Homo sapiens: one gene and its partners. The protein of the gene in region 2 purifies or fractionates together with the protein of the main gene of each other region. This does not show direct contact. Each region holds a gene or a part of one and is shown on either strand. Other genes may lie near its edges. The genes, in order: NEIL3, ZNF212, ADO and EPDR1.

What was found.
Region 1: the proteins of ZNF212 (region 2) and NEIL3 purify together in Homo sapiens (affinity purification with western blotting, with the first as the bait; one study listed by BioGRID). This does not show direct contact.
Region 3: the proteins of ZNF212 (region 2) and ADO purify together in Homo sapiens (affinity purification with mass spectrometry; 2 studies listed by BioGRID and IntAct, with this or other methods). This does not show direct contact.
Region 4: the proteins of ZNF212 (region 2) and EPDR1 purify together in Homo sapiens (affinity purification with mass spectrometry; 2 studies listed by BioGRID and IntAct, with this or other methods). This does not show direct contact.

The regions. Positions count from the first base shown.
Region 1 is NC_000004.12:177,307,052-177,314,810, forward strand, and holds the start of NEIL3 (endonuclease 8-like 3), read left to right. Parts: upstream 1-2,822; 5' UTR 2,823-2,902; coding exon 2,903-3,058; intron 3,059-7,759. UniProt on the Homo sapiens protein: DNA glycosylase which prefers single-stranded DNA (ssDNA), or partially ssDNA structures such as bubble and fork structures, to double-stranded DNA (dsDNA).
Region 2 is NC_000007.14:149,245,933-149,252,878, forward strand, and holds part of ZNF212 (zinc finger protein 212), read left to right. Parts: intron 1-4,226; coding exon 4,227-4,616; intron 4,617-4,748; coding exon 4,749-4,875; intron 4,876-6,773; coding exon 6,774-6,863; intron 6,864-6,946.
Region 3 is NC_000010.11:62,801,778-62,809,467, reverse strand, and holds ADO (2-aminoethanethiol dioxygenase), read right to left. Parts: upstream 4,749-7,690; 5' UTR 4,409-4,748; coding exon 3,596-4,408; 3' UTR 989-3,595; downstream 1-988. UniProt on the Homo sapiens protein: Plays a vital role in regulating thiol metabolism and preserving oxygen homeostasis by oxidizing the sulfur of cysteamine and N-terminal cysteine-containing proteins to their corresponding sulfinic acids using O2 as a cosubstrate.
Region 4 is NC_000007.14:37,922,438-37,929,655, reverse strand, and holds part of EPDR1 (mammalian ependymin-related protein 1 isoform 1 precursor), read right to left. Parts: intron 1-7,218. UniProt on the Homo sapiens protein: Binds anionic lipids and gangliosides at acidic pH.

The DNA of each region.
Region 1 (7,759 bases), on a different chromosome or scaffold from region 2:
TATATTCTGGGAATAAGTACAATTTATCTTAATTTCGTAGAGTATTCATAGTTTTCAAAGTGCTTTCACATAAGCTATGTTGTGTATGGAAATTAGAGCAATCATATGCAGGTGTATAGAAAAAGTATTATTTATTGTCCATATGAAGAAAGTGAGTTTTGGAAAAGATAAATGACATATATATATATGGTTATCAAATAGCACAATTTAATAGATTTAGCAAATTTACTGAAATTAGTAAATTGGACTTAAGAAGAAATTGTGAAGGTTCCTCTGGTAAGAGTGCACAAGAGAAAATTCAAGGAGGATAGCAGTTAGCAGGATCCTGACATAGTCCAGCTGAAATGTAGCAAGGGTCTGCACTAGGGTAGGCTTGCTTGCAATGTTGTGGGCTCTTTTTACAGACAATGTAGATACACAGCGTATGCGAGTTTGCTTTTGATTGGACGTAAGAAGCAAGATCAAAGAGATATACCAAAGGACTCAGAGGCTAGTCACATATAAACAAAATCTGGGCCAGGTGCAGTGGCTCATGCCTGTAATCCCAGCACTTTGGGAGGCAAGGCGGGTGGATCCCTTGAAGTCAGGAGTTCAAAACCAGTCTGGCCAACATGGTGAAACCCCGTCTTTACTAAAAATACAAAAATTAGCCAGGCGTGGTGGTAGGTGCCTGTAATCCCAGCTACATCGGAGGCTGAGGCAAGAGAATTGCTTGAACCCAGGAGGTGGAGGTTGCAGTGAGCCAAGGTCAGGCCACTGCACTCCAGCCAACAAAACAAAACAAAATCTGACTCCGCCTTTCAGTCACGCCAGTGAAATCTCTTAATGCCTTCAGTGTCAGTCCCCAACTCTTACTAATTAAAGATCGTATTTGACCCAAATGTGCACAGTACACAACACCTTAAAGAGAAATGAGGTGAATCAGATAAATGAACAGGTTGATATTTTTTAAATTTGTCCACAAGCTCTTTGATATCCCTCCTTTCAAATCACAGCTTAATTCCCCTCCCCTTGTGAATGCACTGTATTTAATGACTGGCTTCTAATGAATGGAATAAGAAGTAAGTTACCATAGTAAACTAAGTAATAAAGGGTGACTAAGTAATAAAGGGCATTGCAGCTTTCTCCTTGACTTCTCTCTTGGATCACACTCTCAGCTGCCATGTCATTAGAAGAGCCGAGCTGCACTATAGAGACACAAGAGGTGAGAAACTGAGGCCTCCTGCCAACAGCCATGCAAGTGACTCATCTCGGAAGTGGATCTTTTAGCTACAAAAAGCCTTTGGGGCACTTTAGCCTTGGCTAATATTTTAACTGTAACCTCTTGAGAAATGCTGAGCCAGGATGACTCTGGCTAGCTAGACTATTGCCAAATTCCTGACCCACAGAAACTTTGAAATAACAAATGGGATAATTGATGAGGTAACAATAAATAACTAGTACAACGCTGAAAGAGGAGAAGGTATATAGGACTTTTCTCCATCAAAGGACAGAGATTATTGAATTGAACAAGGGAGTAAAGTACAAATAGTCCTGAAATTGATCCAGCCAACTTTTGATCACTAATCTCTCCCTGCAAAGGAAAGATTTAATACTTTTCAAAATTTCAATCAAGTCTTCAGTATATTCAAATTCAACTCTCTAGTATACAGATGCTCCTCAACTTACGATGGGGTTATGTCCTGATAAACCCGTTGTAAACTGAAAATACAGTAAGTCGAAAATGCCTTTAATATATCTAACCTACCAAACATCATAGCTTCACGAGGCCCTCCTTAAATGTGTTCAGAACACTTACATTAGCCTACAGTTGGGAAAAATCACCTAACACAAAGCATATTTTATAATAAAGTGTTGAATAATTTATTGACTACTGTACTGAAAATGAAAAACAGAATGGCTATATGAGTACTCAAAGTACAGTTTCTACTGTGTGTCACTTTTGCACCATCATACAGTCAAAACACTGTTACGCTGGGGCATCCTAAGTCAGCAACCACCTGTGTATATGCTCTTGTGGTTTAACGGCAGCACAGTGCTATGCTTATGAAATCACTTAGAAATTGACATTCTGTTTTAATGTGTAGTATTTCAGTTTTCAAAAAAGAATACACTTTATAATTTACAAAACTATATGGAGTCATAAACTTCATAGATTTATATGTATGCATGCATCTTTGGTTAGGGTTGTGGGTAAATTTGAAAAGCTACGCATTACCCTCAAATTTATATAAACCTCTACGTTTAACAAAGCAATTTCATATAGCTTTCATCTTGGGGCGTCCCCTTACAAAATGGATGCATGCACTTAGGTAGGGCTCACTTAACTATCTAATAATGGAGTTTTTAAATATAGACACTAGAATATATTCTGCTGTTTGTTCCAAAAACCCTCTTCTTCGTTTCTCTTATCCCACCCACGTCCGAATATAGCATGCCAAAAACAGAGCCAAAAACAAGATTGTCTGTGACATATCTGTCCTGTCACAGACAAGGACAGATTAAGAGGACCAGATCAGAAAATGTGTGTATACTAAGTAGCTCAAAGACAAGGGCAAAACTTTAACGCAAAGAAAATACATTCAGAGCTTTCCAAGTCCCAATTTCTTCTGCTTTTACAGTTCAGCCTAGTTAGTTGTCCTCCACGCCCCCCGCCCCACGCGCGTTTGCGTTTTCTTAATAAACCCACAGCAAGACCTAGGGCGGGGGTGAACCACAGCGCATGCGCCGTAGGGAGCGACCTCAACAGCTAGGGTGCTGTTTGGGCGGGGCCTGGGCGGGGCCAGACGCGCGCGAGATTTGAATTTCCTCTGCGTGCGGTCAGTGCCCGCGCAGCGTTGAGTTGCACAGCGGTATTCTCACCAGGCCCTGCAATCGGTGGGCCACAGTGCCGGCCACAGAGATGGTGGAAGGACCAGGCTGTACTCTGAATGGAGAGAAGATTCGCGCGCGGGTGCTCCCGGGCCAGGCGGTGACCGGCGTGCGGGGAAGCGCTCTGCGGAGTCTGCAGGGCCGCGCCTTGCGGCTCGCAGCCTCCACGGTTGTGGTCTCCCCGCAGGTGAGCTACTCCTGTAACAGGCCATGCAGTCAGCAGGGGGGAAATGGAATAAAGACCCCATCAGGGTTCCAGGATTTAAAGTGTCATCTCTTTGCTCTGGCCCAGGTTTCCTGGGGTCCCACCTTTCACAGAGTTTATCGTCACTTTACTGTAGGGAGAAGTCGGTCCTAGCGCGCCTGCGCAGGAGAGGAGGGCTAGCGTTCTGGGCTCACGCTGCCGGAGCAAGATGCCCTAGGGGAATCCAGTGAAGGTGTTTTATCCGAGTCACCTTACTTAACTTCTTTATGATACACACATGGTTTCCCATGTCTACAGCTGCATTTTTTACTATTGATATTATCAAATCTCTGCTACCTCTGATATGTTTTCTTCGTCCCATTTTAAGCTTTTAGCATAAAATTCTACTTTCTTGCTTGGCTAATCTGCAATTGGTAAGTATATCACAACTAGTATATAATTCTAAAACTACACGTAGAAAATTTAGCACTAACTTCTCACTCAACTTCATATTGCCATCTAATTAAGGGGCAATGAAACCCAGTTCTGGTTCCCTTAAGTGAATTTATTTCTTTTTAAAGTAAACTAGCACAGCTTCTTGCCACTCAGGCATTCATTGCAGACGATGTGGTATTCATTTGGCCAGAACTTGTACTAAAAATATTCTGATTAAGGCATCATGTTTTAAAAGCCCTCTAGATGTATGGATGATTGTATTTCATGCCTACATGCAATATTGCACTGTATTTCAATTTCTTCTGCAAAGCTTCTTATAGCCTTTGGTCCTGGAAGAAAAAGTTGCCTGCTATGAAATTAGCATATGCTTACAACTTGAAAGAAATGAGGTTCTAAGTCTAAGAAAATATATTTTCAAACTTGGGAAAAAATAAGTTTTACATCTCCTTCCAATTGCCCTTTTGTTTATTTTGACTTGATATGCCAGTAAGTACTCTGTACCTATTTTTTTTTATTATTGTTATAGTGTTTCTAAAATCGTTTCAGGGTACCACAGAGATGGATTTTAGATGGTTTCTTAAGAATATTAATATTTATGAAAATTACTCATTCAATAAAATTTTGAATACTCAAGACACCTGGGGAGCAAAAACAAATACTTCCTCTTTTGGAGCCTATACTTCAGTTGGGAAGACACAAAGACATTCATTAAATAATCACCTAAAGAAATATAAATTAATAAGTTCTGTGAAGGAGAGATACACGATTCTTTAAGGACTTGTAGGAAGACCTGGGAAGGCTTCCCCAGGGAAGTAGCAAAGCTGAGGTGTGGGCCGGGTGCAGTGGCTCATGCCTGTAATCCCAGCACTTTGGGATGCTGAGGTGGGCAGATCGCCTGAGGTTGGGAGTTCAACACCAGCCTGACCAATATGGAGAAATTCCATCCCTACAAAAATAAAAAATTAGTCAGGCATGCTGGTGCATGCCTGTAATCCCAGCTACTCAGGAGGCTGAGGCAGGAGAATCGCTTGAATCCAGGAGGTGGAGGTTGCAGTGAGCTGAGGTCGCGTTATTGCACCCCAGCCTGGGCAACAAGAGCGAAACTCTGTCTCAAAAAAAAAAAAAAAAAAAAAGCTGAGGTGTGCAGGGTGAGTAGAAGCCATGCAGCTCAGGGATTGGAACAGGAAAAAGACTGAAAGAAAGCCAGAGTAGACACTGCCCTCTCATTTAGGAGTCGACTGCAGAAATCCAGGTGACAAATTTGGGGTCAAGTGCTGGTGGTGGAGATGAAGACAAGAGAATCACTATGATGGGAGGGCTAAGCAATGGATATGACATGAATATACTTAGGGATATCATCATTTACATCATTCAACCACAACGTATTTTGTGTTAGGTTTTATGCTAGCTCCTGCGGATACGAAGATGAGTAGGATATGCTTTCTGCTGTGAGAGTCCAACCTAATGTTTTAAATAAATATCACCTCATTGGTATTTAGGAAAAATAGCTTAAACATTTCCTTTTAAGTTTTGTTGTGATTATCTCTGATGGTATGGCATGAGATGCTTTTACATTTCATTCAGTCATGAAAAAGGATAACCCTATGATAAAGGATTAACCTGATTCTACAGATGAGGCATATGAGGCTCAGAGTGACTTTAAGTAAATTTGCCCAAGATCACATGTCTAGTAAGGGGCTAAACCAGGGTTTGATTTTTCTTTAAAACTCCAAAGCCTACCCTCTTAACCATGCCATAGCTCCTCTCAGCCATAAAAGATTCAGTAGGATCTTTATTGCTTTTTTAGCATACAACGGTAAGAACACCATAATGCTCAGTATATAGTAGTGGTTATTTATTAAATAGAAAAGTGCAATCTTGGATTTTTGGCTGTGTCTACCACCATTTTTAGTTTTGTTCGGTTGAGTCAATTCTCTTATATCTATTCTGATAATTCTCTTCTAACAGCTTCTATGGCCATGTTTGGATTGCACAAAAGAGTGCAGCCTGATAATATAATACAAATGCGTCAGTAATGGTTAGGCAATTATTAACATCACTTGGCAGCAATATTCAATAAGTTATACCCCACACATAAAAAGCCTGGCATTTAAAGGTATTATTTTTGATACCTTGATAGAAAGAGGCATTAAAAATTGGAATAGGTCTTTGTGGTTAGTATCAGGAATCTGGTTCTATGGACACTGGATTTTAAAATCAATATGGAAGGAATACATTCTTTGAGGCTGTTGGTAAATTTCTAAATAATTTACTATGGCTTCATTTTCTGGGACTTTGATCTGAAAAAAAAAACATAATTATAACCTTTTGTAAACATGAAGAGTCTTTTGCATTTTAGAGGGATCCATAGTAAATTTCATTAAAACATGGTAGGTTGTCACAAACCTCTGGCAAGATCATTACTGTAGCAGATGATCCCATGTCTCCTAGGCATTTATGCCAAAGAGTTAAAGCTATTTAAATGTTTCTGCTACTGGCTTGAAATGATTAGTTTTCACAAGGCAGCATTTAAAAATAATTTAATAACTGCATACTGCATTCTTTACAGTGCAGTAAACATGGAAAAAGTTACTAATGAGAGCTAAAGAAATATTTAATGGGCATTCAAAATAAAATATTTAAACCTCAGATAATCATACCAAAAAACAAACCAAAAAACACTACTTCAGTAGTTATTGCCATAATGGACTGTTACTGTGTCATATAGCATTCCTCTTTGTTACAGTATAAAGTTTATAGAGAACACACTTGAATGCATGTCTGCCTGTGACAACTGATCCTCATTTTGAGAAAACCTAGCCATAGAAGATCCCAGCATCTGCTAGTCATGGATGTACTATATTATTTTTCTGAGTCGTGATCCACTGTCTTGTCAGCATAAAATTGTGCAACAGTATAAGCAAATTGCATAAAACTCTGCTGGAGATTGTGGAAACTTATGGTAAGAAACAATATTGGAATATAAATGAACATATCTGGTTAATGAGCTTTGAAGAGTCAATCCTTTGATTTTAATTGTTGGGTGGATACAATATTTTAGTGAAATCATATTTAATCTGCATGTGTTTTCAATCTCACAAAACAGGATATGAAACAGTTTATAAGCATTCATTTTATTTGAAACATGGTCTGATTATTTCCATCACTCCTTAAAATTTGATACATGTATTTAATATGCCAGCTATTTATCGTTATATATGCTTCACAGTGTCAGGAACTGAGGAGACATTTAATAAAAGTTGAATGGATGGAGAAGAACAAGGTTTTGAATAGTGCAAAGTGATTAAAGATTTAGAAATAAATTCCATTTGGACTCTTTCATTATGAGAATGTGTATATTTTGTTGTGCATGTTATATGGAAATTCCTACTACCAGAATATAAACCAGGTAGTAAATTTTCCTTCTTCAAAGTGGGGGAAAAAAATCGTGGCTCATTTTATTGCCATTATTTAAAGAAATGAGCTAATCTACAGAGATTCATTTTCCAGCAAAATGAGGCTCATTTCTTTAAGCATCTGAAGGGGATTTCTAAATAATTTAGAGAACATGCATTATATACTTCCTTACCTTCTTAAATGGATACTAATAATGATTTATCCTTAATGACTCAAGATCATCATTATTGGTATCCAGAATCCTATGGAATCATGAAACAAGGGATAACAAAGAACAGAAACATTCTTACAAAGGAGGAAAAAGGGGAGGTGATTTTCCATGGCCATTGTAGCTTTTTATCCAAGATGAACATATTCGGCATGCTGCAGAGAAGAGAGCATCTGATCATCTTGATTTTGAATTCCCATTTTTTTGTTACTTCCTCGTCTGGAGATGCTTATTGTTGCATCTTAGCTTATTTGGTCAGGATTAAATTAAGCAGCATGTAAAATTCTTAGCTTAGTACCTAGCAAAATAAACATCCTGGGAATTGTTCCTTTTTCTTCTGGATCAGAGCTTTCTCACCAGACCCATTTATCTGAGGAACACCCTATTTTTATGAAGGGTTTGTAATCATTTGGTGCCTTCAGATAAGGTACAAAGTCTTTAGTCTGAGTAAGTGCTTGAAGGTCCTGCACTTAGAAAATTGTAGAATATGTTTTTGATGAATGGGCCTGAGGACCTCTATTTTGTTGTTTAGAAATCACTTTAAAATTATATTCTTTGATGACTTCGATTGGTATTTAAGAGATCTCTGATTAAAAAGTGTTGTTGTAGGCCGGGCGCGGTGG
Region 2 (6,946 bases):
ATAGTCAGCTCTGAATGTTATTCTTTGTGTCTGTTTCATGTTTGTCAGTCTGATGGGTGAACGTGCTTTCACTTAGTTATATTTGGATTCCTGATTGTAAGGTGGTTGTGTTTTCATTTGTTTATTGACTGCCTGCATTTCCGCTTCCATGAATGATTTACAATCTGCAGTTTTATTTTGGGGTTCTTGACCTTTTTCCACTTCATATTCTGTTTACAAATATTCTCTCCTTGTTTTTAGACTTTGTTTATGTTATCTTTTATTACAGCTAGCATTTTCTCCTACTTTGACATTCTAAGACGTGTTTATTGAGATACCATTTACATACAGTAAAATTTACTCTTTAGGCAGATAGTTCAACAAATTTTGACAAATGTGTAGCCAGCATATTACCAAGATAGAGAATATTTCCATCATCCAAGAAAGTTCCCTCATATCCCTTTATAATCAGTCTTTTTTTTTTTTTTTGAGACGGAGTCTTATTCTGTTGCCCAGGCTGGAGTGCAGTGACGTGATCTCAGCTCACTGCAGGCTCCGCCTGCTGGGTTCACACCATTCTCTCGCCTCAACCTCCCAAGTAGCTGGGACTACAGGCACCTGCCACCACACCTGGCTAATTTTGTTTTTGTATTTTTAGTAGAGATGGGGTTTCACCATGTTAGCCAGGATGGTCTTGATCTCCTGACCTCATGATCAATCCGCCCTCCTCGGCCTCCCAAAGTGCTGGGGTTATAGGTGTGAGCCACTGTGCCTGGCCTATAATCAATATTTTTCTCCTATCCCTAGCCCTTGGCAACCACTGATCTGATTTCTGTCCCTATAGTTTGCTTTTTTCCAAACATGTAAATGAAACACAAATGTAGCCTTTTGTGTCTGAATTCTTTTTTTTTTTTTTTTTTTTTGGAGTTTTGCTCTTGTTGCCCAGGCTGGAGTACAATGGTGTGATCTCGGTTCACCGCAACCTCCGCCTCTCAGGTTTAAGTGATTCTCCTGCCTCAGCCTCCCGAGTAGCTGGTATTACAGGCATGCGCCACCATGCCCGGCTCATTTTGTATTTTTAGTAGAGATGGGGTTTCTCCATGTTGGTCAGGCTGGTCTCGAACTCCCAACCTCAGGTGATCCGCCCGCCTCGGCCTCCCAAAGTGCTGGGATTTTAGGTGTGAGCCACCATGCCCGGCCCTTCTTTTTTTTTTTTTTAAGTGGTCTTACTTTGTCACTCAGGCTGGAGTGCAGTAGTGTGATCATGGTTCACTGCAACCTTGAACTCCAGGGCTCAAGTGATCCTCCCATCCTCAGCCTCCCAAGTAGCTGGGACTATAGGCACATGCCACCACGTCTGGCTCATTTTAAAAAAATTGTGGAGGTGGGGGTCTTGCTTTGTTGCCCAGGCTGATCTTGAACTCCTGGGCTCAAGTGATCCATCTTAGCCTCCCAAAGTGTTGGGATTATAGGTATGAGCCACCGTGCCTGACCTTTGTCTGATTCCCGTCACTTAGCATGTTGTTAAACATGTCAGTGATTTTGGTTCCTTTTTATTACATAGTAGTAGACTTAGTAGTCGAAGTAGTAGTCTACTACTAAGTAGCAGGCTTAGTAGTCTTCTAAGCTATATAGGAAAAATACACTAAATATATAATACGGTATATAATGAAGTGTCTTATATAGTGTGTCTGTTTCCTAGGGCTGGTGTAACAAACTGGGAAGCTTAAATAACAGAAATTCTGTCTCACAGTTCTGGAGGTTAGGAGTCTGAAATCAAGATGTTTGCAGGGTTGGTTCCTTATGAGTTTTGTGTTTCTCTCCTAGCTTCTGGTGGTCCCATGTGTTTTCTTGGTTTGTGGCAGCATAAGTCCAGTCTCTGCCTTAATCTTGACATGGCCCATTATGTATTGGTGTAACAGAATACATGAGGCTGGGTAATTCATGAAGAAAAGAGGTTTAGTTGGCTCACAATTCTGGTGGCTGGAAAGTTCAAGATTGGGCAGCTGTGTCTAGTGAGGGCTTCAAGCTGCTTAAACTCATGGCAGAAAATGGAAGGGCAGCAGGTGTGTGTAGAGATCACATGGTGACAGAGGAGGCAAGAGAGAGACCAAAGAAGTCAGACTGTTTCACAACCCACTGTAGTGGGAACTAATCCATTCCTGCCAATGACAGCTCACCCCTGTGGGAGCGCATTAATTTATTTATGAGGGATATGCCCTCATGACCCAAACACCTCCCACGAGACTTCACCTCCCGACACTGCCACATTGGAAATACAATTTCAACATGGGTTTTGGTGAGGACAAACCATAGTAGACATCTTCTCCCTGTGTGTGTGTGTGTCTGCGTCTAAAGGTCCTCTGTTTTAAGGACATCAGTCATTGGATTAAGGCCCATCCTAATGACCTCATTTTAACCTGATTACCCTTGGAAGTACCTTATTTCCAAGTAAGATCACATCCTGAGGTACTGAGGATTAGGGTTTTACTGTATTATTTTGAGGAGACACAATTCAACCCATAACACTGGATGGATCACAATTTTTTCATCCATTGACTGGTTCGTGAACATTTGAATTGTTCCCATCATGCTAGATAATTCAAAACAGAAGACAAGAAGAAACTAGCTTAATCATTCTTTTCAACCTCTTACTATGTGGAAGAGGAGGGGGCTTATTCCTTTGCACAGATTCTCACCTACATTCCTGTCTAGAAAAAGTGCTACTGAGCACAGAATGCTGGGCCACAGAAAGAGGAGACTCACAGACTTAAAGTAGAAGCAAAACAAACATGATGGCATGCATATATCCAGTTTAATATTTTGTTTTGTTTCGCTTGTATTTGTCTTTTACATTGAACTTTTCTTTTAATCTCTTGCAGGAGGATGTATTTAAGCTTTTGTCTCATGTGTTCCATGATGAATTAACTGACTTGAGTAACTAGAGTAGGTCATGGCCAAACTTAAATGTTCAGTTCTGCACCAGTCAGTTTCCTTTTGTCCCATGTTCTCTGGACCACAACCCTTGGCCCCAGCAGTTCTTTCCGAGATATTTCCTCTAGTGTCTCGGTCTTGGTGGCCTCACTGTGGTTAGAGAAGCAGCCTTGAATAAAGTGTGTGCTTTATTCAAATAAAGTGAAGTTTGCAGAGGGGGTTAGGACTGAAGTGAACGTGCAGGGAGACAGTAGGGGGACAGCTTGGGGAAGACTTCCCCAGTGTTGGTTTCAGTAATTTTAGCTTCTATGACAGTGATTTTCCTACTGTCAGAGACAGCTCATTAAAGTGAAAATTATAAGGAAAATGTCAGTAGACTTAGTCACATCATTTCAGTAAATATTTTTTAAGGATTTATTCACCATCCCAGCTGCTAGAGTGCAAAGATGAATGAATTAGGTCTTGTAGGTCCTGCTAAGGAATTTTGTCTTTATTGTGGGGAGCCATTGAAAGTTTTCAAACGGGTGACATGATCAACTATGAAGTCTGGCAGGGATGTGGAAGCAAGATAAGATGTAAGTGACATCTTTTATCATATAGTCCAAAACATTAAATAAAAATAGGTTTAAAAATGAACACTGATACAGGAGTCTCAGAGAATATGCTAAGCATAAAGCATAGGTAACAGAACATACACGCTATAATTTCACTTTTGTTGAAAAAAAATAAACTAAAAGATGAAAAAAAACTTTAGAAATACACCAAAATTCAAACAGCTTCTTTCTTTCTTTTTCTTTTTTGAGACAGGGTCTCACTCTGTTACTCAGGCTGGAGTGCACTGGCACGATCTTGGCTCACTGTAGCCTCAACCTCCTGGGCTCAAACCGTCCTCCCACCTCAGTGCCCCAAGTACCTGGGACTACAGGCATGCATCACCATGCCTGGCTAATTTTTTGAACTTTTTTGTAGAGACAGGGTTTGCCTTGTTGGCCAGGCTGGTGTCAAACTCCTGAGCTAAAGTGATTCAGCTGCCTTGGCCTCCCAAAGTGCTGGGATTACAGTTGTGAGCCACCACGGCCAGCCCTAACAGCTTATTGTGTGTGAGAAGATTTTGTGTAATATTTTCTTTCTATTCTTCATCATTTTCCAACATTATTAATACAATATCTATGTATAATTTTTAGTATCAATAAAAGACATGCTTTTTTTTAATTAAAAGAAACTAGATAACTCTGAGCACTGATACACTTGAACACTGCTTTCTTTACTTGATGTTTGGAAGTGACATTGACCCTGTGTCTTTAATCCATCAGCACAGGAGAAAACGACGCTCCACACCTTTAACTTCTTCCACACTTCCTTCACAAGCAACAGAGAAAAGCTCCTATTTTCAGACCACCGAGATTTCACTCTGGACGGTGGTGGCCGCTATTCAGGCTGTGGAGAAGAAGATGGAGTCCCAGGCTGCCCGGCTACAGAGCCTGGAGGGGCGCACGGGGACAGCCGAGAAGAAGCTGGCTGACTGCGAGAAGATGGCCGTGGAGTTCGGGAACCAGCTGGAGGGCAAGTGGGCCGTGCTGGGGACCCTGCTGCAGGAGTATGGGCTACTGCAGAGGCGGCTGGAGAACGTGGAGAACCTGCTGCGCAACAGGAACTTCTGGATCCTGCGGCTGCCCCCGGGCAGCAAGGGGGAGGCCCCCAAGGTAGTCTCATTGAGGATTAAAAGTTAGAAGAGAAGGGGGAGCCAGCCCTTTAATATGTAAGCACCTCAGTTGCTGGCTTTTCTGTCATAGCTGTGAGTAGAAGCACTCATGGTGTGCCATTGGTGATTCCAGGTGTCCAGGTCACTGGAGAATGATGGCGTCTGTTTCACCGAGCAGGAATGGGAGAATCTGGAGGATTGGCAGAAGGAGCTCTACAGAAACGTGATGGAGAGTAACTATGAGACACTGGTCTCTCTGAGTGAGTAGCAGTTTTCTCCCTAGAATTCTGTCTCAGACATACTACAATTCCTGGCTGGCAGCCTGTAATTCAGACCACACCTGTGGCTCCTGTGGCTGTGGGTCCTCTGTCGGCCTGCACGGGCAGAGAAATGCCAGTCTCTAGGTCCTCCCATTTACAGACCTGCACGGGTGGAGAAATGCCAGTCTCTAGGTCCTCCCATTTACAGAGACTTTTGGAAAGCTCGCAGCATTGTGCCTTTTGTGTTTTTTTTTTTTTTTTCCTGTGGTCACATAGTCTGTTCTTGATAGTATTTTCTAATAAATAAAATGTCATATACCCTATAGTGTGATATGGCTAGGGTTCCTCATGTTGTTTTTTAATTTATTTTATCTTTTTTTTTTCTTTTTTTCTTTGAGACAGAGTCTTGCTCTATTGCCCAGGCTGGAGTGCAGTGGCACAATCTTGGCTCACTGCAACCTCTGCCTCACAGGTTCAAGCGATTCTCCTGCCTCAGCCTCTCGAGTAGCTGAAATTACAGGTGACTGCCACCACGCCCAGCTAATTTTTGTATTTTTAGTAGAAATGGGGTTTCACCATGTTGGCCAAGCTGGTCTTGAACTCCTGACCTCGTGATCTGCCCACCTCAGCCCCCCAAAGTGCTAGGATTACAGGTGTGAGCCACTGCGTCTGGCCTGTTTTATCTTTTTTTTTTTTTTTTTTTTTTTTGAGACTCTGTCACCTAGGCTGGAGTGCAGTGGTACGATCTCGGCTCACTGCAGCCTTGACAGCTTGGGCTCAAATGATTCTCCCACCTCAGTTTTCCGAGTAGCTGGGATTACAGGCACATGCCACTGCGCCTGGCTAATTTTTTAAATTTTTTGTAGAGACGTGGGTCTTACTGTGTTGCCCAGGCTGGTCTTGAACTTCTGGGCTCAAGTGATCCACCCACGTCGGCCTCCCAAAGTGCAGGGATTACAGGCGTGAGCCTCCGCACCTGGCCTCTCATGCTGTTTTTAATATTTAAGACTATTTGAGATGGGTGTGGTAGCTCACATCTGTAATCCCAACACTTTGGGAGGCCAAGGTGGGAGGATAGCTTGAGGCTAGGAGTTCGAAATCAGCCTGGTCGACATAGTGAGATCTCTGTTGCTTAAAAAAAAAAAAAAAAAAAAAAGATGATTTGATAACCCTATGTTACCTTGGATGAGGCAGGCAGCACAGGCTGATCAAAAGCATTTTCTTGGTGTTTGGCCGGAATTATAGCTGGTCATTGTGGTCTCAGTGATTTTTTCTTGTTGATTAGGAGTGCTGCTTAATAGATATAAGTCTTTATATGCAAAATGTTACCTATTACATAATAAATGTGTTTTGTTTGGTAGACAAAGTCTTTTAAAACCTAGGTACATGGAGGAGTGTCAAGTGCCTGGAGCAGAGTAGGAGGTAAAGGAAATAGAAAATGGGCCAGAAAAGTGACCTTGTAAGCTTGGTTGGGTCACATGCTCTCATTGTGACTGTTTCCTTGTCTGTCCCAGTGCCCATCTTACCTTGCAGTGCCTTAGCAAGGATGAAATTAGATCCCCTGAAAGGAAGCATTGGCAAGACTTAAGCTGCACGCACATGGAGAGGCAGAGGTGGGTGGTGGTGCCATCAAGGGCAGTGGTAGCTCTGTAGCCTGCCTGCCTGAGCCACAGCCCCTCTAATGGAGGAGCACTGGAGGCAGCAGCTAGCCAAGTCAGTTGTTATGATTGGCCAGAATTTTATAATTGTCCCAAACTGCTAGGGGAAACTGACAAGAACAGTAGCCTTTGAATCTATATTTCCTCCCTGCCATTGGTCATCTTGGTCACTGGCAGCTGATCAGTGTGCAGTGAGCTTTCACTCTCTCCTGGGCTCACACTGTGCTGTTTCCCACCCAGAGGTCCTTGGCCAGACAGAGGGAGAAGCGGAGTTGGGTACAGAGATGCTGGGTGACTTGGAAGAGGAAGGTCCTGGTGGTGCCCACCCAGGTGAGTGGCTCTGGAATATTCTGTTCCCCTTCCATAGCCCTCTGTAGCCTAGAGTGAGCTTTCCCACGGCTGAAGTGCCAGGT
Region 3 (7,690 bases), on a different chromosome or scaffold from region 2:
ATAATCAAGTAAGAATTATCTCTAAACAATTTGAAACATGTCTTCATTTTCCATAAGTACACTGATTTTTTTTTCCTTTCTTTTTTGAGATGCAGTCTTGCTCTTGTCACCCAGGCTGGAGTGCAGTGGCATGATCTTGGCTAACTGCAACCTCCACCTCCCGGATTCAAGCGATTCTCCTGCCTCAGCCTTCTAGGTAGCTGGGATTACAGGCGCCCACTACCATGCCCGACTAATTTTTGTACTTTTAGTAGAGATGGGGTTTCGCCATGTTGGCCAGGCCGGTCTCGAACTCCTGACCTCAGGTGATCTGCCTGCCTCAGCCTCCCAAAGTGCTGGGATTACAGGTACACTGATTTTAATCCAGAAATGTAAACATCCCCAGATTTGGGTTTGAAGATTCAATATCTATAAGGGACTTGACAAATGGTTTCCTTCTTTGACAACAGATGCCTCATTGCAATGGAAGTGATCAGTGATTGGCTTCTGTATATACGCTTAAGTTATTTAGACCTGCAATTACAAAAGTAGCACTGCTCTCAGGTTAGAGTTGGAAAGCAAGAGGCAAGCCCTGAATTAAAGATATATTGCTTCTTCACTGGGCTGTAGAGCTAGAGCACAAGATTCAGAATCAGTAACAGATGAGTAATGGCAGAGTCCTCCCGAGATGCCAGGACTGAGGCACCTAGAAGGAGACAAGGAAAAGGGGGAATAAAAGGTGTGGATTTTGGAAGAAGTTCAGGGTTACTGGTGTTAAAAGCTCAGAAAACCCTCTCCTGTTGCCAAAACACATATTACTTAAAAAGCAGGCTACCACTTTCATTAATAAATAGCAGTTGGTGTAAATGCAACCCATTCAAATCAGGCTTAGTAAAAATCAATTCTCATAAAATAGTAAGTAGGTACACAATACTCTGCATTGATATAACTGGCCAGTGACAGAACCAGATACTTTAAAAGCTTCAGAAGCATTTAGACAGACAATTTCTCACCCATGAGGCAATTATTGCATTTATTATTCACCATAAAAGTGATTAATATCATTGTGCTCATTAGTCTTTCCAAGGGGAAGATAACTTTTATCCCACAGTTGTTATTAAAACATTATCTATATTGGACGGAGTATATAGAAACACAATAGCAACACACCAAGTCAGTCACGACTAACAGTTTATGCACACAGGTGCAAGATAGTTTCTGCACCACATTTTGTCTTTGTAATAAGCATATTCTTTCCTCAGTGGCTCACTAAAACAAGTTATATTTTGTCTTCACCACTAATTTACTCAGAATTTATTAGTGAACCAAAAGTTTCACTGTTCTTATTGAACTAAATCTGAGATATCATATTGCTGTTTTGGCCTGCAACAATTTCAGTTACTCTTTTGAAAAGCACCTTAGGTTTTTTCTTCCAAATTGCTCGTAATTGAAAACTTTAAAACTTCTTTTTTTCATAATGAAGTCATAATTCTTCCTTTATTACTATCCTACAGCCAGGATGAGTTTTCGTAGCTTTAATGTACTAAGTTGTATTATAACACATACATTGCTATTAATAATCTTGGTAAGCTAATCAACTTTTTGCTACAATATAATCCAAAAAAGTATGTGATTGATAACCACATTCATTACTGTGCTATGGAAAAAAAAACAAGATCTTTTATTTTGTGAAGTTTTCTAAGAAAATCATTTGCATATCTAGAATTTTATTTTCAAACTAAGTGGCATGAAGAACTGCTTCAAACTGCCCCCAAAGGCATTTTAAACTACACCAGAATGTGGAGCTACAATAAAACAATTTTAGCAACAATGCAGGAAATACTTGGTACTATGCCTGTGTCAGGTTTTATAATAAAGTGGCATGTCCTGTGGAATATCTTTTTGTGTTTTGTTTTGGTTTTATTTTTAAATCACTCACCAAGTATTTGCTTTTTTATACTATCTTAAAAACTGGGAACAAATACTCCCTCACCCTGGGTCTCTGTGTGCATAAAGAGGCAAAGGCACGTACTGTTTCTCTACATACGGGGTCAACATTCCACTAATAATAGCAAATCTCCCTTTATTATAGATATTAGAACTCTATTGCCACTTGGGCAAGTCAATCAAGAGGGCTTAGACGACAGCTGGGCAAATTTTAATGTGTTTATTTCTACAATTTCTTTTTATTAAAAGTCTTGTGAAAAAACGGAATCCTATAAATAGTAAAAAGGGAGAAACAGTGCTCCATGGCCTGAAGCAAATGGTGTCAATACATGTGTAAACAAGGTAAGACTGCTCGGACTATTAAAAGCACAAAAATAAAACTAGTCACAGATAGCAAGACTTCATTTCAGGAGTTGGGAGTGGGAAGTAGGAAGTGTTTAATCCCAAGTTTTGGTGCCCTAAAATGGCTAGTAGTATAGTTAATTCTCAATTCTCTAGCTGTGATCTTCTGTGCCTTCTATCTCTTCCTAAGGAAAACCACATTAGATGAACCCAGGGCTCAGTCATTTTAGGGAGAGGGTTGAGACAACACTGCCAGCAACACAGCTGGAATCACCCGAGTCGGGAACATTAAAGTTCCTGAGAGAATATGAAACAACTATCAACATAATATTTCTCCCTACTTTTACAGTAAAATATTGGAAGTAAATAAATATAGGGAATGCAACAACTGGCTAGGAGTGTTTTACATTCAGTTGTTTGGAAGCATAACACATTCAGCTCCTTTGAATCTTCCCGTTAGAAAATACAGAATTACTCTATCACCTTTTAAGGTACAGTAAGACAAGAAAAAAAGTCATGTGAGGATAATACAGTCTTTGCATTAAAGGTGAATCTGCAACATGAAATCTGCTCGACTCACAGATCTGGAGATTCATAGGGAAGATAAGCTCTAAGTGACCATGTCACAGAGATATGCAGGTGCTGAATTTCTTAGTAGATGCTGCCTGAGTAAACCAGATGTGGCTACTGGGCAAAGGGAGGAAAGAAAATAAATCTTGTCCTCTACATGCATAGTTATGTTGTGAGAATGATCCCCAAACTGAAAAAATCATTTAGTTTTCACAAGGAATTAATTAGGCAGGCCAGCTCACTTTAAACAGTAGCTCATCTCCTTAAACCTAGTTTTTACCAATGACTTGAACTAAAAACAATTCAAACCACTGGGTCATGCACAGTCAATAAGTTAAAAAACTATAAGAAAAAAAGGCATAAGGGCATGAGTGGAAAATAAACCCTATTTAACTAAGGGGTAGGGAGTGGGAGCAAGAAAACCACTTAGTATTTTGTATAGAATGGGGAAGAGAGGAAGATATTTTCATTATGGCTTTAGGATGGAAGCGCTTCAGATAGTCCCCTGCCCCATTCCTCCAAATCAAAGCCCCAGTGGCAGTGACAGTACCAGGAAACAATCTAGCCTCCCCGCCCACCCCGCCCCCATAACCGTGCCCGGCGGCTGCTGTCCAGTCGCCCGTGCTTCCCAAGGCTGCCGAGGAAGCGGCTGCTGCTCATTCCAGTAGATCCAACGCCCAGGCTAGGGGGTAGAGACACAGCCCTTGTGGTAGGGTAGGGCACGTCTTCGGCCCACCGCTCCTGGGCGCCAGTGGCTTCAAGGGAAGACCTTGGGACCTGGATAGGGTTCTCCCTCGCACCAGAAGTCATCGGCCTGTGGGGTCTCCAGGAGCCACACCTCTCGAGGCAGGTCACAGGCCGAGCTGGAGGCCTCCTTGGGCCTGACCGGCTCCAGCACCCGGTAATAGTGGCAGTCCCGGCCATCGTCCGGGTCGTAGGGCGGGGCCAGGATGTCCAGGAAGGCGGCAGGCCCTTCCACGGCGTCGATCTGGTGCAGGTTGTCCCGGTGCGGTGTGAGGATGCAGGGGCCGCTGGCCTCGGTGTACTCGGCCCGCGAACGCAGCACGCCCGGCCGCACGGCTTCTCGCTCCCGGGGCTGCAGCGGCGGCTCGAACTGCTGCTCGGGCGGCAAGGCCCGCGGCCGTTGCCCGCCGCCCGCGTCTAGCTTGTCCATGCAGCTGATGCGCACGGTGCCGTACAGCACCTTGAGCATGCCGTGCATGCCCGGGTGGTCGTGCAGCGGGATGGACGTGCCGCTCTTGAGCAGGAACACGCCCAGGCTGAAGCCGTCCGTCTCGTAGATGTGCATGTAGGTGACTGGCGGCAGGTTGGGCGGCAGCGGCTGCAGTGTGGCCTTGCGCGGGGCGATGTTCAAGTCCTCGGCGCGGAGCTGGGTCAGGAGGCTCTTCAGCTTGCTCAGGTTCTCGGGGAAGCCCGGCTGCATCGGCGCCTCCGGGCCAGAAGCCGCGTCGCGATCGGAAGCGCCGCGGCCGCCCCCGCTGCCCCGGAAGGTGAGGCAAGCCTGGCGGGCGATCCGTTGGATCAAGGAGGCCATGTTGTCTCGGGGCATGGTCGGCTGCTCCTCTGCGTGCCGGGACCGGCCCCCTCCTTTCCTCCGCCCCTTGCGGTCCCCGGCGGCCGCCACGGCTGCCCCCAGCCCGGGTCGAGGCGGGAGGCCCCGCAACCACCGGCCCGTCGGGCGCGCGGCACCGCCGCCAACCTCAGCAGCCACGCGCCCGCAACTGCCCGGCGCGCTCGCCTTGAGCCCCCTCTGAGCGCGCACGCGCACGCCCCACACCCCGCACTCACGCTCCGGGAGCAGATAGCGGCCGCGCAGACGGTGCCAGGCTTTGCCTTACGCCCGGCGCTCCATTCATGCGGCCCGCACCTACGACGGTGGCCGGGCGCCCGGGGACCCTGCGGAGCATGCCGGGACTTGTAGTCCGGCCTTCCGCTTGAGCTCTGAGATAGTTCAGTTTGTTGATTGGAAAATAGAGGAACTATTACACATGTTGGGCATAAAGCGATCTTTTTCAGGATGCAGAGGTGTTTTTCTTGTTTTAGAAAAGATGAATCGGGGTGGAAGATTAGTAGCCACTTGACTACAACTCCCGGCACTCCCCGCAGGGTGGAGTGACGCACTTCCGTCAGCTGGCCCCCGGAGTAGTGGAGGCTCTTGGCCTTCATAAGGAAAGGGGCAGGGAGGGTCGTTAACCTTCTGGCGCCGCGCTGGGGCCTGGTTAGCCATGCAGGGTCGCCTTCCTTTGGCCTTGCCCCTGGGAAGGAGGCTGTTGAGTCAGCCTTAGCTCCTCGTAGCGGCCTAGGCAGCACTGTCTCCCACGGGAATTGCAGGAGGGCGCTTTTATAATTTTGTGTTTCCTAGGAGGGGAGGGGGTCCAGGCCGTCCTCTGTGATCATCAAGGTTACTCGGCCCAGCTGGGCCCAGCTGGGCCCAGCTGTTGTTTGCATCAGGACCTGATGACGCTGCTCTTCTGGTTACAGAGCAGTATAGCTTTTTGCTGGAGAGACTTGAGAGGCCATTTACAGTGGTCGTGGATTCTGAACATACTAGTGGTTATCAAATCTTGGTTTGCCTGAGAAGGGGGAGCGGGCTTTTATAAATGCAGATTCCCTGTCGTCACCCAGAGATGGAGTTACTAGATGGTTCTGAGGCATCCTAGGAGAAATAGTGGTGTGCAACAGTCAGTTCAGTCAGTAATTGTGAAATTGTTTCACTACACAGAGGCATCCTTCTCCTTGGCGTGAACTAACTTTTGGCATAAGTAAATGACTAGAAAAGCAAGACATTAGATACTATGACTTTAAACTTAACCCTGAGTTTAAAGTCTTTTTGGATTCCAAAGCTGAACATGGGTTTCTTGTACATTTTGTAATTGGAGTGGTTCAGTGAATCCTCTCCAGTTAAAATAGGCATACTTTTTAAAGTGGATTACATAACCTGGCTAATGAGTACTCACAATATGCCAGGCACTGTGTTAAGTGCATTATATAATGAATGTTATACTATTTAATCCTTGCAGCAACTCTTAAGAGGCAGGCACTATTATTATTCCCAGATTGCAGATGAGGGAATAAGTTGTAGGATAGTGAATACTAAGTACCCAGCAAAGCATGAGCAGCAGAGCAGAAATAAGTACAGTCTTACCAAAAACAGCAGCTTGAATTGGTGTAAAAGCACCAAACGAGAGTCAGGATATTGTTGTTCCAGCCTACTGTGTGTACTTACAAGCTGTGTGTCGTTAGGCAAATCCTACCCTTTTAGGGCCTCAATTTATTCATTTGTAGAATGCCGGTGTTAAGGGAACAAAAGTTCTGAACCCTACTCATCAGAACCCCCTGGAGAGCTTAAAAAATAAAGATCTTGGGGTCACACCTCAGAGATTTTGATTCAGAAGAACTGGAGTGAAGCCTATTTTTTTGTGTGTGGTTTTTTTTTGTTTGTTTGTTTGTTTGTTTTGAGGGGTAACAAGGTTTATCGTGAAGAGCGAAATAACAAAGCTTCCACAGCTTGGAAGGGGACCACAGCGGGTTGCCCCTATGATTTATATTTAAGATGCTTCCTCAAGCAATTATTATTATTATTTTTTTTTTTGAGACGGAGTCTGGGTCTGTTGCCCAGGCGGGAGTGCACTGGTGCGATCTCGGCTCACTGCAAGCTCCGCCTCCCGGGTTCACGCCATTCTCCTGCCTCAGCCTCCGGAGTAGCTGGGACTACAGATGCCCGCCATCACACCCGCCTAATTTTTTTTTCTGTATATTTAGTAGAGACGGGGTTTCACCATGTTAGCCAGAATGGTCTCGATCTCCTGAGCTCGTGATCCGCCCCCCTCGGCCTCCCAAAGTGCTGGGATTACAGGCGTGAGCCACGGCGCTCGTCCAAGCGATTCTTGATCATTAGCTCAGTTTGAGAACCACTGGTAGAGCTGTAAATAGTGAACCAGCTTTCATTAGTTAAGAGGGTGGTTATTTGCTTTAGGAAAGGATTGTTAAGACTGATTCATTTTTAGAGGTTGCCATGCCATTGTTACGTTATTTAAATGTACTTTCAAAGCTGATAAATAAATTTCATACAGTCTTTTTTCTAAAGTGAGAAGTATTTGAGAGTAAAATTCTTCCCCTTCCTTTATTTACAAATATGGACTTTTATTTATTGGTTTTACTTCTATTAGGGTATAATTAGTGGTAAGTATAGACTCCATGGAACACAGACTATATTAACATGCAGATCTCTTGCACTTAATGGTTGTCCACACTTACTTAACTGAAGCTCAAAATTTTCATCTATAAAATGGGATAATATACCTGTGTAAATCACTGATGACACTATGTAGAACATAGTAGCTGCCCCATGACAGTAGCTATTATAGGTTTAAAATGGCTATAAGTTGTACTTAAAGACCAATGAATTTAAATAATACTAAGCAAGTATTGAAATGGAATTTGACTTGTTTTGAGAATCAGCTTCAGGGTAGAGATAAAAAAGATTATTGCTTAAACCATTTACCTGGTAATTTGCTAGTCATCCTTTGGCCTGAGTTCAAAGTTTCCGAAGACTGCCTGTATCAGAATCACTTGGGAGTGTCTGTCAAAAGTGCAGATTCCCAGATCACGTCAAAACCTACTGCATCTGAATCTTTTGCACATTAAAAATTTTAAGAACCAGGCAGGCATGGTATGGTGGCTCATGCCTGTAATCCCAACACTTTGGGAGGCCAAGACAGGAAGATCGCTTGAGGACAGGTGTTCAAGGCCAGCCTAGGCAACATAGCAAGACCCCCATCTTTACAAAAAAAAAAATTAAAAAATTAGTTGAGCATGGTGATACACGCCT
Region 4 (7,218 bases), about 110 Mb from region 2:
AAACCATGAAACCATTACATAAATCTATCATTTTATTGTCTAAGAAATTTAATTATAAGGAAAAAAGGAAAGAAAATACATATCTATTATTTAGGTATCCTTCTACAATGAATGTATATTATCAGTTATTCATTTCCCTCATTCACTGATTCAAAAAAAAATAAAAATTAGTCAGGCCCTGCTCTTAGCAGTTAGAAAATGGAGCTTGGGAATCGCCTTCTCCGACATCAGAACACAGCTCTTTTCATATGGGACAAGTATTCGTTTAGGTCCCACATAGTATGTTGAAAAGAATGTAAAGTGTTCTGAGGAGTTAGAGACACAGCAACAACCATACAAAACCCCTGGCCTTACGGAGCCTTATTGTGCATGAGGGAAGGTGGGGGAGATGAAGGAACAAACTTTAACGTTAAACACTCTGCCAGATAGTCATAAGTGCCTTGGATATATTAATATAAAGCAGTGAGGGGGCACTGAGAATGTTGAGCAGAGAAACAGTTCAATTTGGGAGTAAGTCATGCAGCTTCTTAGGAAAAAGTCTTTCTAGGCAGAGGGAATGACAGATTCAAGTGCCAATGGGGTCAGCGTGCTGAGGCCAGGTCCACAATGAGTGAGCTGGTGACAGAGATAAGGTAGGGAAAAGGCTGGGGAGCAGATCCTGAGCCAAGAAGTGGCATGACGTATTTTCAAGAGAACCCCTGGGGTTTCTATGTGGAGAACAGACTAAAGGGAGCAAGGTCCGAAGTGGGGACAACTGTTAGGAGGCTATCATAAACATCCAGCCGAGACATAATAAAAGTTTGGGCCAGAATAACAGTAGAGGTATGGTCAGATTCAGTATATATCAAAATTAGGGTATAGGTAGGAACATAAAGAGATGAGAGCCTGAGCCCTGGGAGAGTCCACTATTAGCAGTCCAGAGAAGAGCAGAAAGAGCAAAAAGGCTTGAGGAGAGGAAATAAGGTGGGAGAAGGAAAACCAGAAGACTAGCATGTTGAAAGCCAAGTGAAGACAGTGCATCAAGATTGGGGAATTAATCTACAATAAGATGAGGACTGATCAAAGATTGGTTGATTAGTAATGTAGAGCTTCTTGCTTTTGACCAGAGTATTTTCAATAGAATGGTGACAAAAGTGATTGGAGGGTGTTCAAGAGAGCATGGGAGTACAAAAATTGTAGTTAGCATGAGATTTGCTTTAAATAGAAGAGGAGAATGAGATTTCAGCTGGTAAGATCAAGAGAAGTTTTTTTTTTTTATTTAAAGATGGGTAAAATAAAAGAAAATGTTAAGGGGGAAAATAGAAATTTTTTACTGGAATTGGTGAAATCTAAGACTATCATATTTATTCCAGGAAAAACAAACCACTAATTGGTGGAATATTTTCAGATCTTTGGGCACTTTGCCCCTGACCACCATCCTCAAGGTCAGAATCAGGAAGAAACAGCTCAAGGTTATTGGAGAAAGTAAAGATGTTTTCAAAGCAGTATAGTGACCACCTCTGGCTTCCATTCGTAAATTTGTCTTACATTCCATCAGCCTCCTTACTCTCCTGGGCTTATCTTCTTTGGATCTTTTTTCCCCAGTGCCTGCTTCTCCCTCCCCATCTCAGCATTAATTGTCTGAAATCCAGGGTCTATAGACACACTGAATTAAGTCCCTTAAATCAAACTTTGTGTGCTTCCAAGAAAATCTGTTTCTTGAAGAAAAACTCAAATATTGCGAAACTCAAGTATTGCAAATCAGTATGGTTTATTCTTTGAGGATCAGGAGGCCACAAGCAGTCAAGACTTCCTCAGCTCACAAAAGAATATGCTATCTCCAGCCATCTGAGACCAAAATGATGGAGTAAAGGTCAAAGGAGAAGTCATGCTCTTAATATTCACAAAGTCGTGATTTCTTAAAATGAAAATCCAATCCATGCAAGACAAGATTCATGATCAAATAGATTTATTGAGCACTTTATATTAGTCTGCCTCCCCCAGTCACACAGAAACACCCTCTGAGGATTTGTAATGATGACATACTGAGAATCCAAAAGCAATACAAACATATGTTAAGAACATAATTTCATCTACTCCTTTCTCTTGAACAATTTAGACTAAAGCCACTAGGTAGGACCAAGGAAGATAGGCTTCTACATGGGCTGGCCTGGAGCGCAGAGCCCATGTGTGAAGGAGACAGCGTAATGATACATGACTGGTTACCTACTGCAATTGAATAGTAAGCCAGTTTTCTCACTGGCTGAGAAGGGAGTAGCAAAAATGAAAGGAAAAAAAAAACTAGAATGAACCATGTAGTGTTGGATTAGAATGAAGGCATCAGTTTAAACACCTGTATGGATTAGAACTGGAGGTTCAGAAATAAATATAGATGTAAATGTGTATATATGTATGAGTGTGTGTGGGGAGGGATGTGTGTATTCAAACTTAACACCCCTTGCTTTGTCCATTGAGAGGACCTGGTAGCAGTGCCACCTGATAGCACTGAGCATGACCAGAGCACAGGTTCTAACTTCCACATATTATTCTCCAGGAAAAGTAACCAGGGCTTCTTGAAAAATGGTTTATCCTAGGACTGGGGCAGGAAAAGTATAGATGATCTTGAAATATCTTGCTGTGCCGGAAAGCAAGGAAGTGCCCAAACACATCAAAAGAACATAGAAACCAATTTGAAGAGGCTTCCACTGGCCAAATCTAGGACATTATGAACAGCAAAGTAAACAACGAGAGCAAATAGAACAAAATTAGAAGGCTTGAGTCCACACTGATACAAATAAAGTATAATTCAGAAGATTAATGAAGAATGGGATATGTACATGGTTTTAAAATATTTCCCTACCAAATCTTACTAATTAAAAAGAAAAAATGTATCATTTCACAGTGAAGAAGGCTGGCAGACAACAGTCAATCAGGTGATCAAAGTGAACATCAGGATGCAATTGGAACAGAGTATTATCCCTGATATTCCTGCCAAAGGTAAGTAACTTGAATCTAATTATGAGGAAACATCAGACAAACCCAAATCAAGGAACATTCTACAAAATAACTGGCCTGCAATCTTTAAAAGCACTAAAGTGCAAGGAAGACTTAGGAACTATTCCAGACAGAAAGAGACCACAGAGACACCACACTTAAGTGTAATGCTTGCATTTAAATCTTTTTTTTTTTTTTTTTTTTGCTATGAAGAACATACAAAGAACAACTGGCAAAACATGAATGACACCTGAATTTCAGATGGTCAAAATGAACTGGTGTTAATCTCCTGACTTTTATGGTTGTATTGTGGTTATGCAGGAGAATGTCCTTGCTGGGAGGAAATACACTGAAGCATTTGGGGATCGTGGGTATATCAGTTTGGCAACTTACTATCAAACAGTTCAGGCGAGGGGGAAGCTCTTTGTATTATAATTGCAACTTTTCTGTAGGTGTGAGATTGTTTCAAAATAAAACAAAATTATGTATTTGAAAAATAATCCTCATCCTCCTTTCCAAACACATAAGATTACTGAAGTTACCTTAGGTGATAGCAGCCCTGGGAATTAATCATCCACAGCTGATACTTGGACCAACACCCCTATAAGCAACACTATTCCATTCTTAGTAGGAAGGGAGGCTCAGTTGAGTGCAGAGCCTTCTGAGTTTGGGCCCGAGGCATTTCAAGGTAGCCTCTTCTCTTTTTCTACTCATAAGCACAGGCTTAGATGAAAAAGAGAAGGAAGAAAAAGAACTTTGAATTAATTTGTCTACACAATGGGACAGATTGAGAAAAAATTTAAAATCTGTGTCAAGTTCATTGCATTAGAAACAGTGAATCAGCCTGATATAATAAAAGTACAATTGGTGCCTTCAGGATATCATTTAATACTATCTGTACCTAGCATTTAACAAATGAAAGCCTAAAAGTGATTTAGTATCAACATTGTAGGCATCATTCAAATTAAATTAAAAGATGAAAAACACAGAGGTTCTGCAATGTTGAGGACCTTATTGGGGTGAAGGCAGGATTAGAAGCCATGGTTGTCACTCCATCATGGTCTAACATGAATGCCCCTGCTCTCTCCACTACAGGAGGCTGATTCTCTGTTTAAAAAAGAGGTTAATGCTATTCTCTTCTCCAAGAAATAATATGCTCTGGGAGAATCAAGAGAAGCAGACATGAATTAATCAGAATTTGAATAAGAATCCACCTGCTGCCCCATTTGTGACATATTTTTCATGTTTTACAAATACAAATCCTTAATAGAACATGTACGACTGGTGATGAAATAATATTCCAAGATACCAGACTGTGCATATTGTTTTACTGCCTCTCTGCTCACTCTGCATTAAGAGCTTCATTGATTCCAACACCCAAGCCACCATTTTGTAAGGGGGAGCCTATAGTTACTGGTGGCCTGAGAGGGTTCATTGTGTATCAACGCTGCTTCCCCTATAAAGTTCAACATGCTGCCTGAAATATGAAAATCATCTTCTTGATTTCCTTCAGTCTTTCAAATAAATACTTGTGAATTTAATCAAGGAGTCAGAAAAGACAGTTGGAATTAGAAAATAAAATGGTATCAATTACTAATATTTCCCATTTGCTGCTCAGGCTTGTCTTATCTGAAGCTTGTAAAGTTGTTTAATCTTTTCCATCATCTCAGGGAAAACAGAGCCTGGAAAATCCTAGTCATTCCACAGTAACTATCAATGGGATTTTCCATAACTATCTGGATGCAAAATGAAAATCTTAAGAAGTTGATCCAATTCTAAAACTTACTTCTCAACTTACTCATAAATATGAAGAGACAACTCATCCATATTTTCTTCAAATAACATCTGGTTGCTTGGCCAGACTGTTAATACCTGAAAAAGTTTCTGAGTTTGTTCCAACAAATCTACACTTAAAGAGCTTAAAAATGTGTTTATGCATTAAACATTCTTTTCCACATCTGACTTAGGGCCAGCGATGTGACTGTCAGAAAGAACCTTGCCAAGAACTCGGAAAGAAAGGGAAAACAATGTCTTTTAGAAGTTTAACTGTGAAACCAGCACCTATTGGATTAGGGCAGAGGAATGAGAAATCACCGCAAAGGGACAAAAATGCTTCTAAGCCAGCAAGAGTTGGCTGTGACTCCACTAAAGGTATAAAACACACATCTAAAGGCTATATTAGTCAGTCATGGAGTCATGGAAGAAGGGTTGCTCAGACAGACTTGAGCAGTACTCACCAAGGGTCCATTCTGAGTGGAAGGGGTCAGGAACAGCACAGTTGGGGTAGCACAGAACCACCACCAAGTCATCTCTATTGTGAAAATCAATGCATCACTTTGCCTTTGCCTGATTACCATTAAACCTTACCCCAGGCTGGCCTGTCTTATTCATGATGGAAAACTCCACATTGAGCATACAGCCTAACCTAGGGCAGGCAATCATTAGATGTTTGCTCAATGAATTTGCTCCAACTCTTTGCTCACAACTGCCTGATGATAATTTGGCTCCCCACATAGTTCTGACTACAGGGAGAGAATGACCTAGTCTGGTGGATTTGAGAATGCTGGTCCTCATGCCAGCAATAAGACTCATTGAAGTAGACAGGTTTAGCATTTGAGTTTCCTTACTCGAAGGTTGTTCCCAAAGGAAGGGTCTGTGTGTGCTGCTGTATCAAGTTTCTGAGCCCAAAGGGCTGGCAGCAAGTCTCTGGGCTATGGTAACTTTACCAGGATAATGATGATAGTGGTAGCGATGGGACCAACCTTGGCCATGAACAGAGCATCTTGTGCGTACTATCAGACATTGTACTGTATGTTTTATACACTTGAGCTCATTTAATTCCCATAATAATCCAATAAATTAGGCATTATAAGTATTCACATTTTGTAAATGAGGATACTGAGACTCAGAAAGCTTTATTAACTTACCCAAAGACCCATATTCAGAGTCTGGATTCAGATCCAGATTTGTCTGACTCTAAAGTCTAATTTTTTTAATTGTAAAAAAAAAAATACTACCTTTGGAGAGATGAACCCTTATCCTTCTCTTTGACACACTCCTCTGCTTCAGCAGTGTGCTCTCGGCCATCCCAGTCCATCTTCAATATGACTATTCATCAATGCGCCACTACTGTACAAGTCTTCACATAAAATTACATAGGATACCAATGCACCCTTAATTAGAAGTGCACAAAGTCAAGCCCTGTTGCAAGGAACAGCATCACCATCTACCCTATGCCATCAGTACCATTAGCTTCACAAGCCAAAAATGGGGGCCTCTTTAACGTTTTCCTCTCCCTCACCACGCCTGCCACAACCCGTCCAATCATGTACATTTTCCTCAGTTGAACCTCTTCAATACTTCCCTAATGCATTCACTTGCCCCCTGTTCACCATTTCCATCGCTACTACCCATCTCTCACCTGGACCACTACGACAATCTCCAAGATTGTGTTCTCACTTCCACTTTTGCTCCACATGGCTCCATTTTGTGTCCACATCTTGGGAATGCATTCTTAAGGACACATCCAGGGATCTTTATATAATCTAATCACAAATTCCACTGTTTAAAACTCCTCAGTATGACCCTTCGCCATGTCCTGGGCTTCAGCCCTAATAGTGAGTGGTCTGTGGTTTTTGGAATTTACTCAGCTCTAAAAACTCCGGGATGGCACACACATACCAGGCATGGATACACCTGCATCCCCCTGGACCAGCAGTCTCTCCACATCTCCCTGGAAAACCTGTACAGGTGTTTTGGAACTCACTCTCATTTCAGCTCCTCCAGGAAGCCTGGGTTAGGTGCCCAACTGAGTTCTTCTCATCACAACCCCAGCTCTCACCCCTCATCCCACTGTATGGAAATTTTTTTTATTTATGTGACTTCACCTCCAGACTCTGACCTCCCTGAAAGCCAGGAGCCATTCTGTTTATACACAGTGCCTAACATGAACAAATGCTTGTTAAATAAATGAATGAATGTGAACCTGGTATACCATAGGCGTCAGAACCCCCCCCTAGCTTCCTCAAGCATTAGCTGTGTGATCTTAAGAAAGTTGCTTAATCTCCCTAGACCTCAGAGTTATTGTCTGTAAAATGGAGATCATAAAACCTATACTGTCAAGTTATTGTGAGATTTAAACTAAATTATATAATAGATGTAAAGTCCTCAGTGTCATGCCTCATATATAATAAGTATGCAACTGTTAGTTGTTATTATTATTACTGTGCCCTTCAAGACCCTACT